Linked DNA regions of Homo sapiens. The protein of the gene in region 2 interacts with the protein of the main gene of each other region in a pairwise test. Each region holds a gene or a part of one and is shown on either strand. Other genes may lie near its edges.

Region 1 (7,362 bases), on a different chromosome or scaffold from region 2:
AGACTCCGTCTGGTGGCAGCAGGGAGGAGCAATGAGATTACTAAAGCACCATTTGGCAACTACAATAGTAACAGTTGCTTCAGGTAATAATTATTAATAGGTGTTAAAACTAGTAGATTTTTTTGAAAAACAACATATTTATATAGTCTGGAAATATCTGTCTATAAGAAACTACTTAAAAAGGGAAAACAGCATCTTTACAATAGAGAAACTTGGCAAATGATCAAAGCTAATATCACTCGTAATGGGACAAAAGTGACATCATGTGCCTCTTGATATTATGCACTGTGCAGGACATCCATCTCTGATCTTCCTGCCAAAAAATGCGTAACCTGAATCTAAACCAAAAAAAAAAAATTAGATAAACCCAAATCGAGGGCTACTCTACAAAATAAATAGCTTGTAGTTTTCAAAAATATCAAGCTCATGAAAGGTAAGGACTGAAGAACTCTTTCAGGAGACTAAAGTGATGACAACTAAGTGCTGTGTGATTCTGGATTAGATCTTGGATCAGGAAAACAAAGAGATGTCCTTGTTTTTAGGAAATCAAACTGAAGTAAAGGGTAAAAGAATAGCATGCTTGCTACTTACTTTTAATCAGTTCAGGGGAAACTGTGTGTGTGTGTGTGTGTGTGTGTGTGTGTGTGTGTTTGATAAATGTGAAATGCTAACATCTAAGAAATCTGTGCAAAGGGTATATAGGAATTATACTATGTCTGCAATTTTTCTGTAAGTCTGAAATTATTTCAGAATAAAGTTCTTTGTTAAAAGTAACTAGTTTTTAAAAACATAGCTGGTTGAATGCTGTGTCCCAGTAGGAAATCCCTTATTCCACCTCTCTCCTTTTGTTTTTAATTCTGTATTGGATTTTATAAATTATACATAGTTGTAAAAATTTCAAATGATGCAAAATTGTACAAAAGTCTGTGCCCTCTCTCACCCCTACCACTAAGTTGTCTGCTATTATTAACTGGTTGGTTGTCTCATTCTAAACCTTTCTGGACTTACACAGATAGAGAAGTATACATGCAGATGTATATACAGTCTCCTCTACCCCCATACTACCAAACATTGTTGAGTATCTTTTTTTTTTTTTTTTCAGGCTAATCTAGCCATGGACATCTTTCTCAATATGTATATATAGCTCTGCTTTGTTTCTAAGCATTTTTTTTCTAAATGAGTCATTCCATTGTCCCTAAAACTCATTGTCAAGGACTGATGGACTAACTTTAGCGCAGAACCATTTGTAACAACACTGGGAGCCTGAAGCTAACAGAATTGAAGTACTCTGTTTATTGTACCACATAACCAAGACTGTATCAGGTATGAGGGTGCTCTGAAGACCTCAGTGACAGGAATTTGGAGACTTTTTCTCTAGTGAGAGGCTGTTACGGTGACTCAGCTTTGGTCAACACCATTTTCTGTGTCTCTATATAGGCTCAAGGTTGAAATCCTTATAAGAGAAAACAGGTTTTGTCACTTTAGGCTGCAGCTGCCCCTTAAATAGGCAGCTGTGGTCAGAGGAATAAGGGCACAGAACACAGACATTGGCCCCTGAGTACCCTTCCCAAAGAAGAAGGCTTAGAGGGCAGTAGCCATCTCATCCCAGCTTCTCTTCCCAGGGCTGCTCTAATGGTTTCATATCTGATCTGTTCTAGTCCCTTCATTGAGTCTGTCTTCCCTACCACCCCTAGAGTTACCGCCAATCACTGTGATTCTCAAATGTGGTCCCTACACAAACAGCATCAGCATTACCCTGAACTTGTTAAAAATGCAAATTTTCAGATTCCATCTCAGAGCTACTGAACCAGAAACTCTAGCAAATCCTCCAAGTTGATGCTGCTAACATTTGAGGGTCACAGACCTACTACATAAAGCTGATCATATTATCCCCCCCATTTTTAAAACCTAATGGCTTAGCTGAGCACACACTCCAAAGTCCTCAGTCATGGCATAAGAGGTCCTTTGTGATCTCTCCCCAGTCTGCTTGTTCAGCCACCCCACCCCTGACCCCTCCCACCCCAACACCCTTTCTGCATCCTGTTACAGAGAAATTTGCTGAGCCCTTTCCTGAACTGCACCTGGTGAACTTCTACTCTTCATCACTTCCTCTGGTGCCTTCCCTGGCTCCCTGGCATGAAACTGCCCTGGTATACTTTTAAGTATACTGGACGAACAAGAATATGTTGTTTCTCAGCAGTGTCCTTTTAAAGATCTCCCAGAATTTGCCCTGAGTAGGGAATTCAGCCTCTGTAGATTATATGGAACCTGCATTTGTAGAGACTGTTGGCTGTCCAGTAGCCAGTCAGATTGGGGTGCTTGTAAGTAACTGTTTATATTCAAATTAATATACTAATATTCAGAAACTGTCCTTTCTGGTCCATGTAATAAATAGGACACCATTTACATTTGGAAGAGAAAGGTTCTCTGTTCATTGTGAGAAGAACGGTGAATTATGAGCAAGAGAGGAAAAGGTTGCTTTTGAAAGACACAGGTTCACCCTTTCACTTGGCAGTAATCTTATCCTGACAGCATTTAATGTGGAGTAATTGTAGCCAGAGAAGAATCTTAGTAGGCTTTAATTAAAAACACAAGGAATTTTTTTCTCTTGTCTTCTTCCTATCTGCCTCTTTTTCTTTTTTCCCTCTTCGTTTCTGTGTTCTCCCTTTTCCTGCCCCTCTTTTTTCTCCTCTTCATCATCCCTTAACATTTAAAATGTTTTTGGCTTGGCTAATCCCTATGGATGGAAACTTAGCTGCGCAGGATATTGATTACCAAATATGGTATTGCTGCTAAAGATGTTAGAGGAATGTGGCTTGTATTCTAAGCCTCCGGCCTCTGAATAAGCTGCCAAACAAATTAGGTCATTTTAACTTCTGAGCTTTTTTTTTTTTTTTTTAAATAAGGATGCTGGAACTTTGATTTGGAACATGATGTTGATGTTATTTTAGTTCAAATTGGGGGGCGGGTATGAAGAAGGGGGCAGGGAGTAGGGGAGACTTAGTTCAGCATGTTTTAGGACTCAAGCCGCCAGCCCAGGTTGTGTAAGAGGCAAACACATGATGTGGAGCTTCAGTTGATTCTGGAACACCAGTGAAAGAGCTGAGGCATAGAATTCACATGTGCAGCCTCATTTTCTGAGGCTAGATGCTCTAGACCACAACTAGGTCCCAGGATACTCTTCACATCATCCCCAGTGGCCTGGGCCACAGGACTCAGGTTAATGTGAACTCAGGTTTAGGAAAGTTGCTTCTTCACAGGAAGGTTGGTCAAGTTTAGTGCCGGGGAGGACGTCCTGAAGTTGATGGCAAGTTGCTACTATGTGTGTCTGATGGAGTGTGGTGCAAATGAGGAAGTCCTTTTACAGCATACCTGTACGTAACACCCAGGGACTGTGCTTGCCTCCCAGCAGAGACCACAGTTCTTAGGTCCATTCTTGGAAATATTAATTCTGTTGTAATATTAGCTTTGTTAGGGTGGAAGTTGGTCCACCTCAGTGAGGTCCTTTGTGACCTCACCCCAGCCTGCTTCAGAATGCAGCTTTGCTTTTTGTTTTTGTTTTTCCTTATATACTTTTTCTTCAAAATAATACTGAGGTTTCCCAAATTTAAAAAACAAAAATACAACACAATATCAGTTAAAGAAAATGTTCTTATGTTTCACAGAACAGGCACTATCTGTTCGCTTTTTGGTGTTGATTAGGTATGCACAAGGGTATTCTCCACATCCCTTTTGCTACTGCCCTCAGTTGGTTTCTTCTCAGAATGAGTGAGTCATGCTCATGAAGTTCCACCCACTCCAAGACTTCTGGGTCAGGGCTCTGTGGCTTTTGTTAGGCCTCCCTAAGGACCTCTCTTTCCTTCCCCTTCCCCCCTTGTTTCCTGTTAATGCCATTACCATCCAGCCACAGGCTCTTCCTTGTATACTTGAAGCTGAGCCTGTGAAGTTCAGAGTTGTTCATCCTGGTCTCTAGAGTAAGAGAGTCTTGTTTTTGTGGATATTTCTTTTTTTGAGACAGAGTCTAGCTCTGTCACCCAGGCTGGAGTGCAATGGCGCGATCTTGGCTCACTGTACCCTCTGCCTCATGGGCTCAAGCAATTCTGTCTCAGCATTCCAAGTAACTAACTGGGATTACAGGTGCATGCCGCCACGCCCAGCTAATTTTTTTTTTTTTGTATTTTAGTAGAGATGGGGTTTCACCATGTTGCCCAGGCTGGTGTTGAACTCCCGAGCTCAGGCAATCCACTCGCCTCGGCCTCCCAAAGTGCTAGGATGACAGGCATGAGCCACAACGCCCTGCCTGCTCTTATTTTTTTTCAAGCTCATTAGGAAGAATGGTGGCGAGGGGGCGGGGGATGCTTTGGAGCCCTCAGGCCCATGTGTGTACATTCAGAACACTAAATGGCAACTGTGTTCTTAGGAGACTCGTTTTCAGGACTCCAGTCCCTTTCCAGACCACACCATGAAAACATGGGAACTGAGTGGGTCCCATGGGTGCACATTTAAAATACACTCTCTTGGGATATCTTTTTGACACGTAGGGTCCAGAATTCATGGTATTGGATGCTTAATAATGAAGACATTCTTGAATGGTGGAAAGGTTCCAAATAGACTTGTCTTGCGCTAGTGTCTTTCATAGTGTCTGTGATTTGTTTTACTGAATATAATCTATTTTAGGTAAACTGCAGGAATAGGGTCAGAGGTAACTGAAATTACTATATATTAAAGTGTGTAACTGTGCTAGGAATTTGCTGGTTCAAATTTTAAACTGAAAAGTTTTTGTCTAAAAAGAAAAGGAATAGTTGAAAATCTGTGTAACTACATTTTTTAACTAAACTAAATCCCACTGACTTTCGGGACACTTTGTGTTGTCATTTTTCATGTAACCTGTGTAAGTAGTAAGAATGAGAGTGGTTGCTGACCTTTTTTCCTGATAGACCAGGGTTTACTGGTGTGTTTATTTTGTCACCATTCCGGTTTGACTCAAAGGAAATGAAAACATCTTCCATTTGTTCTCTGTTTCCAAAGGGCATCCGCTTCGATCCTGAAATTCCGCAAACACTACGACTAGAGTTTGCTAAGGCAAACACGAAGATGGCCAAGAACAAACTCGTAGGGACTCCAAACCCCAGTACTCCTCTGCCCAACACTGTACCTCAGTTCATTGCCAGAGAGCCATGTAAGTCGATCTACTTTTCATTCAAAAGTAATAATAACTAAGAACTGTTCATGTGCTGCATGTGAGGTTACACCATGGGACATGGAGCTGGCTGAGTCTTATTTTCCATTTCTGTGAAGAGGTTGCCTAGGCGTTCTTGGTGTCAGAATTCCAAATACAGCAATCTTGTTTGTGATTGGCTTCCCAAAAGATGGTTCAGCTTGAATAGAACCATAACTTCAGAATATCATTTGATGTACTACAGATTTCCTTAATGTTATATTGACCATCATGAGTATGCCCCTAGTTGCCTTGGGTATAAACCCTTCATTCCCCCCTGCTCGGACACGAGAGCTGGTTCTCAGCATTTACTTTAATCCATTTGTTGAAGGACATCAGCTCGGTGGCTTTGGAAAAATAGGATATTAAAAGAGAAAGAAGCAGATCTTGGGAATTTGGTTCTATTCAGTTTAGCCATAACTCTAGGGGGAAAAGTAAACACATACAAAGAATGTATATATTGGAACTGTCAGTCTAGCAAACTAATACCAGTAAAACTTTAAGGAAATTTGGGGCTTTCTTTTCCAACTTAATTGGATAAGGACACTGGCTAATTGCTCAAGACGTCTTCTACCCCACATTAATAAGCTTATTTCATTATATGTCCAGACTACCATTTCTGCCTTTCCCTGAATAACTTTAAAAGATTGAATTTGCTTTCTCAAGCTCAGTCAGTGGCAGAAGTGGGGCATGAGACAGGCCTTAACTTCTCCTTTCATTGCAGAGCCATATGTGATTTAATATGGCAGGGCATTCAAGGAAACCCAAGTGACTTGGATTCCAAGTTATTTGGAATATTTCTGTCCTGTTGTTTTTGGTCTGCTTTCTAAACCACACGGTTGTGATCTTCTTCCTTCGATAGTACATTTTAACTCTTCTTATTGAAATTGAAGGACACATGGATTCCTTGCTCCCCCCATGTCATGTGCATGTCAGATTTAATCAGGTTATCTTTGGAAGTCACAGCCATTCTGTAGTTCAGTCACTCTTGGTACTCATCAGTAGAAACTAACAGATAAGTCTCCCTGAATGTTCTAAAATAAATGTTTCTATGAATCCAGAAAGTCATAATAGATTAAAAAAAATTATTTTGTTCTTTCACCTTCTTTGTCCCAGGGAAACTAGAAACCTTTGCTTATTTGGGAAGGAAATCTAAACAAAAGTTACATCTTACAGTGTACTTGTAGTACAGGAGGATATAGGAACATCTTTTACATAATTCTTCATCCTTATAGTATCTAGCTTAATACTTTGTATATTGTATATATTTAATATTTATTATAGTGAGTGGATAAATTGATACTGAAATTGGGCTACTTGTAGAACTGTAGATGCATTTGTATGCCTCTTCTCTCTGAAATTTCTTCTCTCTTGATCAAGGCATCAAAAAAGAGTATTTTTAGGATGCCTGATTTAGTAAAAATAACCTAAAGTAATTCTTTGCCTTTTTAGTGAATTTGCCAGCCTCAGATCTCAGAGTTCTTTGAAAAGATTAATTCAGGCAGGAAATGTAATGCTGGTGATACTTAACTTTACCTTTTCAATTCTTTGCTGAATGCTCTTTTTAACAGGACCACGAAACTTTTTCTGAATTTCCTACAACAGCCCTGTGAAATAGGTAGCCAGGAAGGTTGTAGCCAGATTACGACATGCTATACAAAAGCAACAAATAGGAACAAACTGGACATTCACAAGTCCCTGAAGTTACAGGAGAGCATAGAAACTGAGCTTAGAACTCTTTTCTGGCAAGCTCTGCTCACCTCCCTTCCCAGCATACAGAACAGTGCAAAAATGGCCAGATAGTTTCCATGACAGGGTAAAAACTTGCCCAGCTGTTCACAGCAACACAAATTTGAAGTTTAAAAAAAAAAAAAAAAAAAAAATCCAAGCAGCCAGCAGTGTATTCTTGAGGAAAATAAAAGTCAGCATGATTTATCTTAATATAGCTCATTTTTACGACACAGCATCTTGAGGAGAGCAAGTCCACTATGGCTCAGGTCAACCTTATTATCCATTGCCATTCCCTCTGGGAACTGGGAACTTGACCGTCACATACAACTTGCTTACCTGGAAGCATACGGCAAGACTAAGAACACTGTGTTGGGTCTACACGGACAAACCCACTTGCATTGTACTCAGAATTG
Region 2 (7,362 bases):
ATTTTTCTCTTTTTTTTTTTTGTACAGATGGAGTTTCACCAAGTTGTCCAGGCGGGTCTTGAAATCCTGAGTTCATGTGATCCACCTGCCTCAGCCTCCCAAAATGCTGGCATTATAGGCATGAGCCACCAGACCCGGCCAAAAAATTAAATTAAAAAAATGCTCCAGGCCAGGCACAGTGGCTCATGCCTGTAATCCCAGCACTTTGGGAGGCTGAAATGGGCGGATCACGAGGTCAGGAGTTTGAGACCAGCCTGATCAACATGGTGAAACCTCGTCTCTACTAGAAATACAAAAATTAGCCAGATGTGGTGGCAGGCGCCTGTAATCCCAGCTACTCAGAAGGCTGGGGCAGGAAAAACGCTTGAACCCAGGAGGTGGAGGTTGCAGTGAGCTGAGATAGTACCACTGCACTCTAGCCTGGGCAACAGAGTGAGACCTCGTTTCAAAAAAAAAAAAAAATGCTCTGGATGTACACCGAGAGGCACTGGCTAGAGGCGCCGAGCCCTTCCTCTGCAGAGAACAAAGCTTCATGGAGAGGAGGCCTGGAGGCCTGATACCAGCGTTGCAGGGAGCACACTCAGCTCCCTCATCCACTGAAGACCCTCCAGCAGAAAGAGCTAAAGCTTGCCAGGCACAATGGGTCACACCTGTAATCCCAGCACTTTGTGAGGCCGAGTTGGGTGGATCACTTGAGGTCAGGAGTTCAAGACCAGCCTGGCCAACATGATGAAACCCTGCCTCTGCTAAAAATACAAAAATTAGCTGGGCATGGTGGTGGGCACCTGTAATCCCAGCTACTTAGGAGGCTGACCCAGGAGAATCATTTAAATCTGGGAGACAGAAGTTGCAGTGAGCCGGGATCGTGCCACTGCACTCCAGCCTGGGGATTCTCGTGCCTCAGCCTCCTAAGTAGCTGGGATTACAGGCTCCCACCACCATGCCCAGCTAATTTTTTGTATTTTTTGTAGAGACAGGGTTTCACCATGTTGGCCAGGCTGGTCTCGAACTACTGACCTCAGGTGATCCACCCACCTCAGCCTCCCAAAGTGCTGGGATTACAGGCGTGAACCACCGCACCTGGCCTTATTTTTATCTTTAAGATTCATTACCAGGCCGGGTGTGGTGGTTCACGCCTGTAATCCCAGCACTTTGGGATGTCGAGGCGGGCAGATCACGAGGTCAGGAGATCGAGACCATCCTGGCTAACACAGTGAAACCCCGTCTCTACTAAAAATACAAAAAAATTAGCCCGGCGTGGTGGCGGGCGCCTGTAGTCCCAGGTACTCGGGAGGCTGAGGCAGGAGAATGGTGTGAACCCGGGAGGCAGAGCTTGCAGTGAGCCGAGATCATGCCACTGCACTCTAGCCTGGGCAAAAGAACGAGACTCCATCTCAAAAAAAAAAAAAAAAAAAAAAAAAAAAAAAAAAAGAATGGCTAAAACTTAAAAAACTGACAGTACCAAGTGTTGACAAGGCTGCAGAGCAATTGGAACTCCTGCACCCTGCTGGGGGGTGCAAAATGGTGCCCTCCCACTGCACCACTGGAGAGCCACATATTTAACTTTACAACAAACAAGACCCAGCAATTCCACTCCTAGCGATCCACAAGAAAGCACATCTCCAACCCCTCTCCCCCACTCCCAAGGCCCTAGGTTCCCTCCCAGAACCATGTCCACATACATCTGCACCCTCCTCCCCAGGCAGCACACCACCCATGCTTTTCTGCCCCTTGCTTCTGTCCCTCAATGCATCCTGCAGACGGCGCCAGTCAGGACTTGGAGTTCCTGCCACCTTTATATCAGCACACAGGGTTCCACTGCAGGGCTGTGCCCAGTCCTCAAAGACTGAGATCTAGCTTGTTTCTCATCTCCTGCCCCCACGCCTGCTCACCTGATAGTCCTTTTGCAGCAACACGGTGTGGATGAGGCTCTTGTCAAGGCACAGGGCTGCAAGCTTCCGACAGGTACGCCGGACGTTCAGAATCAGATCTGTGCTGGGGACGTGACTCAGGATGTGAAGGAGGATCTCATCAGAGAACCCTAGGAGGTGGACCCCGTCTGCCATCCCGGCTGCTGCAGGGTGCATGTCATCATCATCATTGGATATGTCCTGAAAATAAGGGGGACACCATTCCCACAGGATCCCCAAGGATGGCTGTCAGCCTAGCCTGCAGCTAGGCAGAGAAGCAAAGAGAAGCCCTTATCCATGGGAAAGAAGGTGTTTTTACTAAAACTCTCAACTGAATGACAAAGAATTCACGAAATCCTTCAAAACTCCATTATAGAGCTGTAAGCCAGGGTCTCCCTTCAAAAATGAAAGATTACAAAAAAAGATCATCATGTGTTTATTTCTTTTGTTGTGAGACAGAAGTTTCACTATTGTTGTCCAGGCTGGAGTCAATGGCGTGATCTCGGCTCACTGCAACCTCCGCCTCCCAGGCTCAAGAGATTCTCCTGCCTCAGCCTCCCAAGCAGCTGGGACTACAGACGCATGCCACTTTGTCCAGCTAATTTTTTTGGTTTTTTGTAGAGACGGGGTTTCCCTATGTTGCTCAGGCTGATTTCAAACTCCTGGGCAAGTGATCCTCCTGCCTTGGCCTCCCAAAGGGTGTTTTGTTATAATAGAGACAGGGTCTTGCTATGCTGCCCAGGCTGGTCTTGAACTCCTGGGCTCCAGCCTCCCAAAGGGCTGGGATGGCAGGTGTGAGCCACCATGCCCGGCCTCTTTTTTTTTTCTTTTTTTTTTTAGACAAGGTCTTGCTTTGTCACCCAGGGTGGAGTGCAGTGGCGCAATCTCGGTTCACTGCAACCTCCGCCTCCCGGGTTGAAGCAGTTCTCCTGGCTCAGCCTCCCAAGTACGTGGGATTACAGGCGACTGCCACCACGCCCACGCCCGGCTAATTTTTGTATTTTTAGTAGAGACGGGGTTTCACCATGTTGGCCAATCAGGTTGCAAATTCCTGACCTCAAGTGATTCATCCGCCTCAGTCTCCCAAAGTGTTGGGATTGCAGGTGTGAGCCACCATGCCCGGCTTTTTTTTTTTTTTTCTTTTGGAGAAAGAGTCTCACTCTGTGGCCCAGGCTGGAGTGCAATGGTGCGATCTTGGTTCACTGCAACCTCCACCTCGCAGGTTCAGGAGATTTTCGTGCCTCAGCCTCCTGAGTACCTGGGATTAAAGGCATGTGCCACCGTGCCCAGCTAATTTTTGTGTTTTTAGTAAAGACGGGGTTTTGCCCTGTTGGTCAGGCTGGTCTTGAACTCCTGGCTTCGAGTGATCTGCCCTCCACAACGCTAGCCTTTCAGGCAAGAGCCCTGCACCTGGCCATGCACACTTCCTTTTCCATTGCTGTAGTTCATATCTGGCAAATTACAAGGTGTTCTTCCCTAATGTGGGCCTGAGTCAAAATGCCTGATGCCTTTTTGGTTTATACGATGAAGAGGGAGAAGAGCTGGACCTAATGAGACATGAAGTCCCCAGATCGGGGACAAAGGAAGGCAGAAGGCTTTACCAAGGGGAGCCTCTCAGAGCAGCTGATCTCTGTAAAGACCACGCCGAGGAGAGAGTGCCCGGAATCATCTCCACTACATCATCTTTCTGGGGACTGTGTCTACACGACCCTCTGGCTCCAGCCTGCTCCTGCTTCCTGTACATATTTGCCTGGATGGAAGCTCTGAGTTTTGCAAAGCCAGGCTGCTACCATGGCAACCGTGAAGGCCATGGAGGAAGAGCCTATCTGCACACCCCACACGGGTATCGGAGGTTTCCTGGGAACTCTGACTGCGACAGTCCTTTCACCCTCTCCAGACAGGATTCCCATCCTGCTAAGCCCTCGCCAGGCCCTAGACAGGTGTGCTGGAATGTGTCCCACCTTTCTTCCCTGGGAACAAAGAAGTACCCTCCATCCTCCAAAAGAGAAAGCCACACGGAAACCAAAGGACATGGCCCGTAAGGACCCATGAGGCTCATGAGGGTCAGAGGTTAGACACTTACTTCTACCTTCCCTCCTAATATTTTAATAATTAGCAGAACAAGGCCGGGCATGGTGACCCACACCTGTAATCCCAGCAGTTTGGGAGGCCGAGGCGGGGAAATCACAAGGTCAAGAGATCGAGACCAGCCTGGCCAACATGGTGAAACCCCGTCTCTACTAAAAATACAAAAATTACCGGGGCATGGTGGCAGGCGCTTGTAGTCCCAGCTACTCAGGAGGCTGAGGCAGGAGAATCGCTTGAACCCCGGAGGCAGAGATTGCAGGGAGCCAAGATCACACCACTGCACTCCAGCCTGGGCAACAGAGCAAGACACTGTCTCAAAAGAAAATTAGCAAGACAGGCTGGGCACAGTGGCTCACACCTGTAATCCCAGCATTTTGGGAGGCTGAGGAGGGCAGATCACGAGGTCAGTTCTCGAGACCAGCCTGGCCAACATGGTGAAACCCTGTCTCTACTAAAAATACAAAAATTAGGCCAGACGTGGTGGCTCACGCCTGTAATCCCAGCACTTTGGGAGGCCAAGGCAGGCGGATCACGAAGTCAGTTCTCGAGACTAGCCTGGCCAACATAGTGAAACCCCATCTCTACTAAAAATACAAAAACTAGCCAGGCGTGGTGGCATATGCCTATAGTCCCAGCTACTCGGGAGGCCAAGGCAGAAGAATCACTTGAAACCGGGATGTGGAGGTTGCAGTGAGCTGAGATCGCGCCACTGCACTCCAGCCTGGTGACAGAGCAAGACTCCATCTCAAAAAAAAAAAAAGAAAGAAAAAAATACAAAAATTATCTGGGCCTGGTGGCGGGCACCTGTAATCCCAGCTACTCAGGAGGCTGAGCAGAATTACTTGAACCCAGGAGGCAGAGGTTGCGGTAAGCCGAGATCGCACCATTGCATCCAGCCTGGGCAACAGAGCGAGACTTTGTCTAAAAAAAAAAAAAAAAAAATTAGTGGGACACAGTGGCATGTGCCTGTTGTCCCAGCTACTCAAGAGGCTGAGGTGGGAGGATCGCTTCAGCTCAGGAGGTTGAGGCTGCAGTGAGCTAGGATCTTGCCACTGCACTCCAGCCTGGATGACAGAGAGAGACCTTGTCTCAAAAAAAAAAAAAGATAAATAAATAAAAATCAGATTCCTGGAACCCACCCCAGACTTGTGGGGCCCAATCCCAAAAGACAGACTCCCAAATCAGGGACAACCTTTATCAGAACCAGAGACAAACTTGATCAGAATCAGAGACAATCTTTATCAGAACCAGGGACAGTCCTTATCAAGGAATGAACTGTACCCCTCCCAATTCCCAGTTTGCAGATTTATGAAAGAATGCCATCACAGAGCTCACGTGGTAAGAATGAGAACTTAGGGCAAAACACTATTAAAAACTCCAGCACTGGGCCAGACGCTGTAATGCTGTGCTCACGCCTGTAAAACCAGCACATTCAGAGGCTGAGATGGGTGGATCACCTGAGGTCAGGAGTTTGAGACAGGCCTCGGCAACATGATGAAACCCCATCTCCACTAAAAATACAAAACTTAGCCGGGTGTGGTGGCACACGCCTATAGTCCCAGCTACTCAGGAGGCTGAGGCAGAAGAATCGCTTGAACCCGGGAGGTGAAGGTTGCAGTGAGCCGAGATCGCACCACTGCACTCCAGCCTGGGTGACAGAGTGAGACTCTGTCTCAAAAAAAAAAAAAAAAAATCCAGCATCATATAGATTCCACAGTTACACGACCACACTGAATTTTTCTTAAAACCTCATAGAAATTACAATAATTTTTTTTAAAAAGAGAGGGAGAGACAGCAGGCCAGGAATTAAGTTCCAGCTCTCTCCATCCAGCCACAGCAAATTCCACAACATCATTTTTTCCACATGCTGTGCTCCAAATAAAACAGAAATTTTGGACAGGCGCGGTGGCTCACGCCCGTAATCCCCAGCACTTTGGGAGGCCAAAGCGGGTGGATCACGAGGTCAGGAGTTCGAGACCAGCCTGGCCAATATGGTGAAACCCCATGTCTACTAAAAACACAAAAATTAGCCAGGCGTGGTGGTGGGCTACTGTCCACAGCAACTATCCAGCAACTCGGGGGGCTGAGGCAGAAGAATCGCTTGAACCTGGGAGGTGGAGTTTGCAGTGAGCTCAGATTGTGCCACTGCACTCCAGCCTGGGTGACAGAGTGAGATTCCATCTCAAAAAAAAAAAAAAAAAAGAGAAGTTTCATCTCAGGCCAGACCCCTGATGCAATTGTGGGGCCAGCACCCAACCTGGTGGGGCAGGTATCTGAGGGGTGATGCCCAGACAAGACGAGAAACTGGCCCAGGAAGCAGCTCGAATGGGCCCCCACCCCCACTCTCCATCTCCGGCCAGAGGACCCTAGGAGGCAGCTGCTGGGCGGGCGAGTTGAGTCATTTCCCTGGAACTTAGCTTCCGGAGACAACTTTGTTAAGTTAAGGCACCTTGCACCAAAAAAGGTGGCAAGCTCTGGAGAGGAAACAAAAACCAGGGTGCAGGAAGGGCGCGGTAGCTCATGCGTGTAATTCCAGCACTTTGGGAGGCTGAGGCAGGCAGATCACTTGACGTCAGGAGTTCGAGACTAGCCTGGCCAACATGGTGAAACCCCATCTCGACTAAAAATACAAAAATTAGCTGGGCGTGGTGGCAGGCGCCTGTAATGCCATCTACTCAGGAGGCTGAGGCAAGGAGAATTGCTTGAACCGAGGAGGTGGAGGTTGCAGTGAGCCAAGATCGCACCACTGCACTCCAGCCTGGGCGAAAGAGTAAGACTCTGTCTCAAAAAAAAAAAAAAAAAAAGAAAAGAAAAAAAAACCCAAGTTGCAGCCTGGGCAATGTGGCAAAACCTCGTCTCTACAAAAAAATTAAAAAATTAGTTGAGCCAGGCACGGTGGCTCACGCCTGTAATCCCAGCACTTTGGGAGGCCAAAGCAGGCAGATCACGAGGTCAGGAGTTCGAGACCAGCCTGACCAACACGGTGAAACCCCGTTTCCACTAAAAATACAAAAATTAGCCAGGCATGGTGGCACGTGCCTATAGTCAGTCCCAGCTATTCAAGAGGCAGAAGTGGGAGGATCACCTGAACCCGGGAAGTGGTGGCTTCAGTGAGCCATGATCGCGCCACTGCACTCCAGCCTGGGCAACAGAGTGAGATCCTGTCTCCAAAAAAAAAAAAAAAAAAATCTAGGTAACTGGCTGGAGGTCAAAGGCCAAGTAATGCCTCCCACAGGGCCTGGACTCCTAAGCCCAGAACCTCCCTTCCCTCCACCACCAGGAAAGGGCAGCTGAGGCTTCCAGACAGGTCCCAACCAGGCACCTCATTCCTGGGGTCTCCTGAAATTCCAATTCTGGTGTGAGT
Region 3 (7,362 bases), on a different chromosome or scaffold from region 2:
CACTCTTGCACTTTGCCCTCCCTTCACCCCCAGACCCCAACACCATCCCCGTTCCCACACTTCCACGCATTCATCTGAACCAACACCCGTGCCCTGGGTGCGAGCCTCAGGCATGAATTCAGAGTCCTTTTGGGCTTGAGCTAAACCAGCAAGGGGATGTCCCAAGGGGGCCAGTCCCCAGCTGCTGGGCTGTTTGTGGCTGGGCAGACGAGGAGTCCGTCGACGCAGAGGGTGCCCCGGTATCCTGTCCGTGGTTCTACCCTGTGGTAGAACAGCATGACGTAACCTACCATAGGGTAAAACCACTGGCAGGACACAGAGAGAGACACACACAGGGCGCGGCCACACCAGAAGCCCACCAAGCAGAGCCTGGAGAGGAGGTCACCACGGAAAAAAGGAACATCCATCCACGGGGCCAGCGCAGAAGGCAACGCCACCACCGAACAGAGGACCAGAAGCAAGTTAACCCAACACCAAGCGGGAAGACATGCCCACACCGGGAGAGGTCTCGAGCGGAGAGGTCGCTGCGGGCCACAGCGCTCTCTCTCTCTGCCGGGGCCCTTCTGCCCTGCTGTCCAAGGCAGCATTTCCCAGAGGGCCTGTTAACTTTTATGGGTGGACCAGGGTGAAGGCAAGACAATGCTTTGGACTCTTTTTAGGGTGACATAAGCCGTTACAGTTTTACTGACCCCAGGCATGTGACATGCAGTTGAGCCCTGCTCAAGGCCCTGTGGATCGTGACACAGCTTATCCACACGGGGACACCTGACTTCACCTGCCCTGGCTGCCTTAAGAGGAGGGGATCCCAGGGTCAACTCTAATGGATGACCACATGGCCCCTATATTCAACTGCCCAGATGCTGCTGGCCTGGTTGTTAAAGTACAGAAACATGACACATTGGTAGATAACAGAGCCATTGTACTGAGCTCTCGCCCCTCCCAGGAGTCCTCCGTCGCCTCATGACCCAGTAACTAAAGGCTTAATGTCCAGCCCAGTGGGGCACCCCAGGCCCCTGTTCCAGGCCCAATGGACTGGCCACATGGATTCACGTATTTTGTTTTTTTGTTTGTTTTGTTTTTGAGATGGAGTTTCGCTCTTGTTGCCCAGGATGGAGTGCAATGGCACGATCTCGGCTCACTGCAACCTCCTGCCTCCCAGGTTCAAGCGATTCTCCCGCCTCAGCCTCCCCAGGAGCTGGGATTACAGGCATGCACCACCACGCCCAGCTAATTGTGTATTTTTAATAGAGACGGGGTTTCTCCATGTTGGTCAGGCTGGTCTCGAACCCCCGACCTCAGGTGATCCACCTGCCTCAGCCTCCCAAAGTGCTGGGATTATAGGCGTGAGCCACCGCGCCTGGCGGGTTCACGTATTTTGAATGCCACACTGTGCCCATTCCTGAAGATGCATGAGAGCTTTGGGAGGGAATGTGAGCAGGGGGCAGGCAGCTTTCTGGCCATTGATGCTGTAGCCTGGGGAAGCGGGGTACAGGGCAGCCTTCCGGGGCACTCAAGCTCACCTGGCGATGCCCCCATAGTCCAGGCCCTCCTCGCCACGCATGATGATGTAGAGCCGGCGGCGCAGGTCATAGGGTTTCATGTTCATGATCTGGGAAGACAGAGCATCGGGCCAGCCTGCCACTCTCCCTTCCACAGCAGGCAGGGGCGGGAGGGACAGGGGACTCTAAGGCCCAATATCCAGCAGACACAGTCACCAAGACTCACGCCCTGGAAAGTCTGCAGTGTGGGTTTAACAGGCCACGCGATAGGAGATGGGGTGCTGGGAGGAGGGCGTCGGCCTGCCACTGGTTTCGGGCACCATGATCTAACCTGTTGGAAGGAATCTTCGAAAAGCGTCTGCCTGGAAACGCTGATCTTCACGTGGCTAGGTAGGGCATTTGACTGAAAAAAAAAAAAGAAAAGAACTTTAAATCGAGCCTCAAGTGGTCATCTGTTCTCCTGTCTGTATGAACAGGCATTCCCCAGCCTGCTGGGCCAGGAGGCAATAGCATGTGCCCTAGGAATGAAAACTAGCTTCCTAGAGACAGCCAGCTCCGGGTTAGACAAGTGTCTTGCGCCCGCCTAAGACACAAACATTCCGATACCTGCTGCTGTGCCGGGAACTCACACTGAAATAACTCAATAACCCCAACTGCCACGGGAGCCCCAGTACCAGAACTCACATGGCAGAGGAAACGGAACTGGTGATACTTCCACCGAAAACTGCGGTCATAAGCACCAGGGGAACCTTGCTTCGTCCTAGGAAGAGCAAAGATGTTCAGGGGTTCATGCGATTTCTCAGAAAATGAACAATTTGTCTTTGTCAGCCCTAAGGAAAGCTGGTGCTATGTTAATTTAAAGATTAGTAATGTAAGGTGAGGAAGTGACTGTCATTAAGATCCTTGAAGAATAAAAAAGAAAATCTAGAAATAAAGCCAGACTTCTTGCTTTTAGAGAAATAACTCTAGTGTCATTCGGAATAAACAGGATAGTCCCTTCCTCCCCATCCCATCTTATTTATTTGTTTGTTCGTTTTCTAGAGACGGGGTCTTGCTCTGTCACCCAGGCTGCAGTGCAGTGGTGTGATCATGGCTCACTGCGGCCTCGAATTCCTGGTCTTAAGCGATCCTCCCGCTTTAGCTTTCCAAGTAGCTAGGACTACAGGAGTGTGCTACCACACCGAGCTAATTTTAAATGTATTATTATTTTTTAGAAACAGGGACTCACTCTGTCACCTGAGCTGGAGTGCAGTGGTGCCATCATAGCTCACTGCAGCCTCAAACTCCTGAGCTCAAGGGATCCTCCCACCTCAGCCTCCTATGTAGCTGGGACTACAGGCATGCACCACCACATCCAGCTAATTTTTAATTTTTTTTTGTAGAGATGGGGTCTTGCCATTTTTCTCAGCCTGGTTAATCTTTTTTATTGTTGTGGAGACACGGTCTCGCTATGTTGTCCAGGCTGGTCTCAAACTCCTGGGCTCAAGCTATCCTCCCATCCCCTTTAATATGACATCAACATTGGCCACTAGAGGGCAGTAAGGGCAGTAGAACGCACCACAGGGGCCACCCAAAGTGGGCCTCCCAGAGCCAGAACAAGGACAGCCTGGGCCTCGGCTCCTGACACTGCTGCTACCTGCACAAAGTCCTTACCCCGACTCAAACCCCGGGCGAGGATCCTTAAAGGTGGTGGTGCGGGTATTGTGGTCCACAAAGTATCGCACCCCCTCGCTGGTGTATTTCATCTCCCATCCTGGGGGCAGAGCTGGTTCCTGGATCATCCTGGAAACACGGGAAGAAAAGGGTGAAGGGCTGGCCCCACCTTCTGGACCTTGGTGGTTGGAGGCTGGGTCCTCAAAGTGTGGCTTTGTCTCTGCAGAGCCCATGAGGGACTTTGAGGACATGCACCCAAGAAGCATGACCCAAGTCGTGAGAACAGTTCTGCAGCACGGAGAGGTCACTTATTATCTCATGGCCAAAAACCCAGCCCTGCATGGATGGCATTGGACTGAGCAGCCACCAGCAATCCTGAGGCACCCTGTGCCCCAGCACAGCTTCACTTGGGGGTGTTGGGAGACCAGGATGCCCTCAACCTTTTTGCAATCCAATTATCAGCAGCCAGCACAATCAGTATGGAGACCAGCAACACCCGCCAGCCGGGCCGCCCTCCATCCACCAGGAAGGTCTATTTAAGAAACCCCTTTTAAGCTCTCATCAGGCCAACAGTGTATCTGTACGGTGAGAGTCTCAAGACACTTGTGTGTGGCTAAAGGTCCCTGACATCAGCCCTCTGGGACGATGCAGTCCAAAGCCACCTGCCCAGTGCTGGAGCTGCACAGAGACCCAGCCCAGCCCGGCCCCCCTCTCAGCCCAAGTCCTTACCCCTGGGTCCGGGGATCCTCCCACTGGGTCGTGCGAGTGTTATGGTTCACGTAATACACCCGTCCATTGTCCTGTCTCTTCTCTGCCACATGAGAAGAAAGAAAGAACATCAGATTCAAACACGGAGAGCCGGTGTCCTTTCCCTGAGGTTCCCACCTCCTGGGTGCTGGGTCTGAGTTTATCTCCCTGTTGTCAGCCTGTTAGAGAAGAACCAGCCAAAGCCAAGCTCACTCACACTTGTCACTGGGAAAGGGACAAAGAGGGTCCTTCCTTGTTGGTGGTGGGGGGCGGGGGTGACATACTTCCAACTCGAGATGAAGCACTTCTTTGGTTGATTGGTCGGAGGGAGGGGGTGGTGTGGCCACCCAGAGGGAGCAGCACAGCTCAAACCAGAGGCATAATTGCTCCCAGCTGTGTGCAGCATGGAAGCCGGGCAGTCCCTAACCCGCCAGGCCCCCCACCCAAGTCCCTCACAGCTGATCCCTGGTCCTGGGACCCTCTGCACTGCATGCAGCTAACCTGGGCGCCTCTGTCCTACAGGGCGTGGTCCTTATGGAGTGGCTGCATTTCCCTCGCACCTCTCTGATCAGTGCTCTGCACCCTGCGCCCCTGTACCCTCCAAGTTCTCCCTCTTCTCCCACTTACAGGCTAAGTCTTGTTCTAAAACTCTCATACCCTGGCACGCCTCTTTCTTGCTTATAAGCAAATAAATGATATCTGGGGCTGAGGACACTTACACTGCCCAGCCTCTTCTTAGACTTGTATCTTTTTTTTCTTTTTTATATAAAGACAGGGTCTCGCTATGTTGTCCTGGCTGGTCTCGAACTCCTGGCCTCAAGTGATCCTCCCGCCTCAGCCTCCCAAAGTACTGGGATTACAGGCAATAAGCCACCGTGCCTGGCCTGCCTATCCTGTTCTTAGGCCTAAGTATGTGCTTTGAGACAGGGGAATGTTCATGGAGTGGGGCTGGGGAACAAATACACTTTTCCTCTGCTCTGAACAATCTCTGTTCTCTTGCCCTTTACTGATATACTGATAAGGGCTCTGGGGTCCCCAAGGGAGGAGTCTGTGCTCCAGGGGCAGACCCAACCCTAGCTGGTGATTCTGGACCTTGAGAGGGATTGAAAGGGATAACCTCTCAGCTCCAGGTAGACAGGAGAAAAAAAAAACAAAAAACTAGGGGGTAAAGCTCTTGGCTCAAAAGAGGTCACCTTTCCCAGGAAGTTCCTGAGCCTTCAAATCTGCTTCTCTCCTGAAAACAAATGATGCTAATGGCTCTCCTTTTACAAGACAGGGCAGCATTAAAGAAACAAAAATAATCAGTTCCAGAAGCTACAGGGAACCAGAAAGCTGAAAAAGGAGCAGAACAGGGAAGTGCAACAACCCCCTCCTGACTCCAAGACTCGAGCTGCAGTGCTCCCAACACCAGACCAAGGCCTCAGTCTCCCTCCCACTCTCTGCCTTACCTGGTATCTATGACTCGACTGAAATTTTACAAACAGACATTATTTGTCAATCATACCTCAGTAAAGCTGGAAAAACAAATAAATAAAATAAAAATAAAGACAGGCTGGGCACGGTGGATCACGCCTGTAATCCCAGCACTTTGGGAGGCTGAGGCAGGAGGATCGCTCGAGCCCAGGAGTTCGAGACCAGCCTGGGCAACACAGCGAGACTTCATCTCTATTTTGTAAATAAAAAATAAATAAAAGAAAGCCAAAGGAAAGAAAGAACAGGAGGTGCCCAGAGCTGTTACAGAGCTACCACCACCTCAGAACACACAGAAGGAAGGCTTCCCAAGAGGTTTCCAGGGGAGGGGCTGCTCCCAGCCCCGAAGCTACTGCTTTGAACTAGATCCTCCACGTCTGCCCTGTTAAGGGCCAAAGCCAAGGCTAACCACAGGGCCAGGGGGATCTGTCCAGCGGGCTTGAGGCCTGTGTCGTCATTTCTGGCACTGCTGCTGTGTGGAGGCCTCCCAAGGCCGGCTGGCTGCCTCGCGGCATTCAGTTTCAGTTGGGGGCTGGGAAAGACCCCAGGAACACCTGGCTCGACCTCATTTTAGGACAAAGGGACTCAGACATATTCAGCCACAGGCCCAGGGTCAGGGCTGCCGAGGGCAGATGTGGATCTGAACCCGAGGTGTCCTGAGTCCCACAGCAGTGTGTGGGGAAGATGCGGGGTCTCTCCTGGGGCAGCAGAGAGGGACACCAGCAGGCTGGGTTAGCAAGCTGCCGATCACTCTCACTTGGTCTGGCTGTTCTTCCTGTTCATTCTCGGTGAGCCCTGGGGAGCCGGCCCCAGCCACAGCCCTGGGGCAGCCAACACAGATCCCCAAGGATCTGAGATTCAGAAGGAGCCCTGGCCTTTAGCCAGAATGTTCTTCCTCTTAATTCTAGACTATGACAGTTTTGTGGGTTTTTTTCTGATCGTTCATTAACAGTATCGACTCTGACCACGGCTCCTCCATTTCTATCTCAAATATTTCCACACTTAGCATTCGAGAGCTGTTTTCAAGTCTCCATCAGCTGTGCTTACCTGGTGACCATCACTCAGCAGAACTGGCATGAAAACCCACTTGACTGGGCTACATCACCTGCCTCTACAGAGCCTGAAATACACTAGAAGTCCCCGGCTTCTATGCCACTGGCTACTAAACAGCAGTACAGATTCTTGTTTAATCTGACGCATTTTCCCCTGCCTACTGACGACGCAGGGTCTTCAGAGTTTTACTCTCTCGCATTGGAGTTGCTGCCAATCTCTGAGATACTAATGATCTTTCTTTGGTCCAGGGAGCCATGTGGGGCAGCTATCTGCGTAAGGGATCCCCAAGCTGAACATCAACAAATGTGTGGAAGCTTCACTAAATGATCTCTCCAATCAGAAGGACCAGAAGGCCCTTCTGGCACACTGGACTGCAGTGCTCATTGACTAAGTGGTACCCTGCAGGTATAACAGGGTTGACACAACCTCTTAAATAACTACCCGAGAGCAGAAGTGTCTGCATCGAGAAGATCCAGCTCCAAACCTGCATGTTTCCAGGCATCAGATGCCCATCCTATCACTGCCAACTTCCCAGGATGCACCTCTCCATCTTTGTTGTCGAGCGCACCCCCTCCCAGTTTCACACCATCTGTCAACACCACCAAACCAACGTTTACCGTCTTCTGCTGGCCTAACCAATAAATGAAACCCAACACATGCTGGTTCCCGCAAAAACTGCTTTCTTCTGCTCCCAGTGACTCTCACAAGATTAAATAAAACTCTGCCCCAGCTCTATCAAATGCGCTAAGTCTCATCATCTCTAATGACCCTTTTTGCATGGCTACTCTTTCCTAGAATAGCCATGAAGCCTATCATCTCTCCTAAGTCATGGATGTCCATCCCTTAACTCACTGTCAGCAAATCACATCAAGGACTTGGGATAGGTAAGAGGCGGCTACCAAGCGCGAGGAGAAATCTACACGGCGATAATAACTAGCAG

What was found. The genes of interacting proteins can lie anywhere in the genome.
Region 1: the proteins of FBXL18 (region 2) and RBPMS interact in a two-hybrid assay, tested with the Homo sapiens proteins (2 studies listed by BioGRID).
Region 3: the proteins of FBXL18 (region 2) and WWP2 interact in a two-hybrid assay, tested with the Homo sapiens proteins (3 studies listed by BioGRID and IntAct).

The regions. Positions count from the first base shown.
Region 1 is NC_000008.11:30,499,258-30,506,619, forward strand, and holds part of RBPMS (RNA-binding protein with multiple splicing), read left to right. Parts: intron 1-1,275; exon of another isoform or gene 1,276-1,453; intron 1,454-2,018; exon of another isoform or gene 2,019-2,261; coding exon of another isoform or gene 2,262-2,321; intron 2,322-4,922; exon of another isoform or gene 4,923-5,028; coding exon 5,029-5,179; intron 5,180-7,362.
Region 2 is NC_000007.14:5,503,520-5,510,881, forward strand, and holds part of FBXL18 (F-box/LRR-repeat protein 18), read right to left. Parts: intron 2,112-7,362; coding exon 1,893-2,111; intron 1-1,892. UniProt on the Homo sapiens protein: Substrate-recognition component of the SCF (SKP1-CUL1-F-box protein)-type E3 ubiquitin ligase complex.
Region 3 is NC_000016.10:69,926,049-69,933,410, reverse strand, and holds part of WWP2 (NEDD4-like E3 ubiquitin-protein ligase WWP2), read right to left. Parts: intron 3,964-7,362; coding exon 3,882-3,963; intron 3,282-3,881; coding exon 3,153-3,281; intron 2,260-3,152; coding exon 2,184-2,259; intron 1,903-2,183; coding exon 1,831-1,902; intron 1,610-1,830; coding exon 1,521-1,609; intron 331-1,520; exon of another isoform or gene 231-330; intron 1-230. UniProt on the Homo sapiens protein: E3 ubiquitin-protein ligase which accepts ubiquitin from an E2 ubiquitin-conjugating enzyme in the form of a thioester and then directly transfers the ubiquitin to targeted substrates.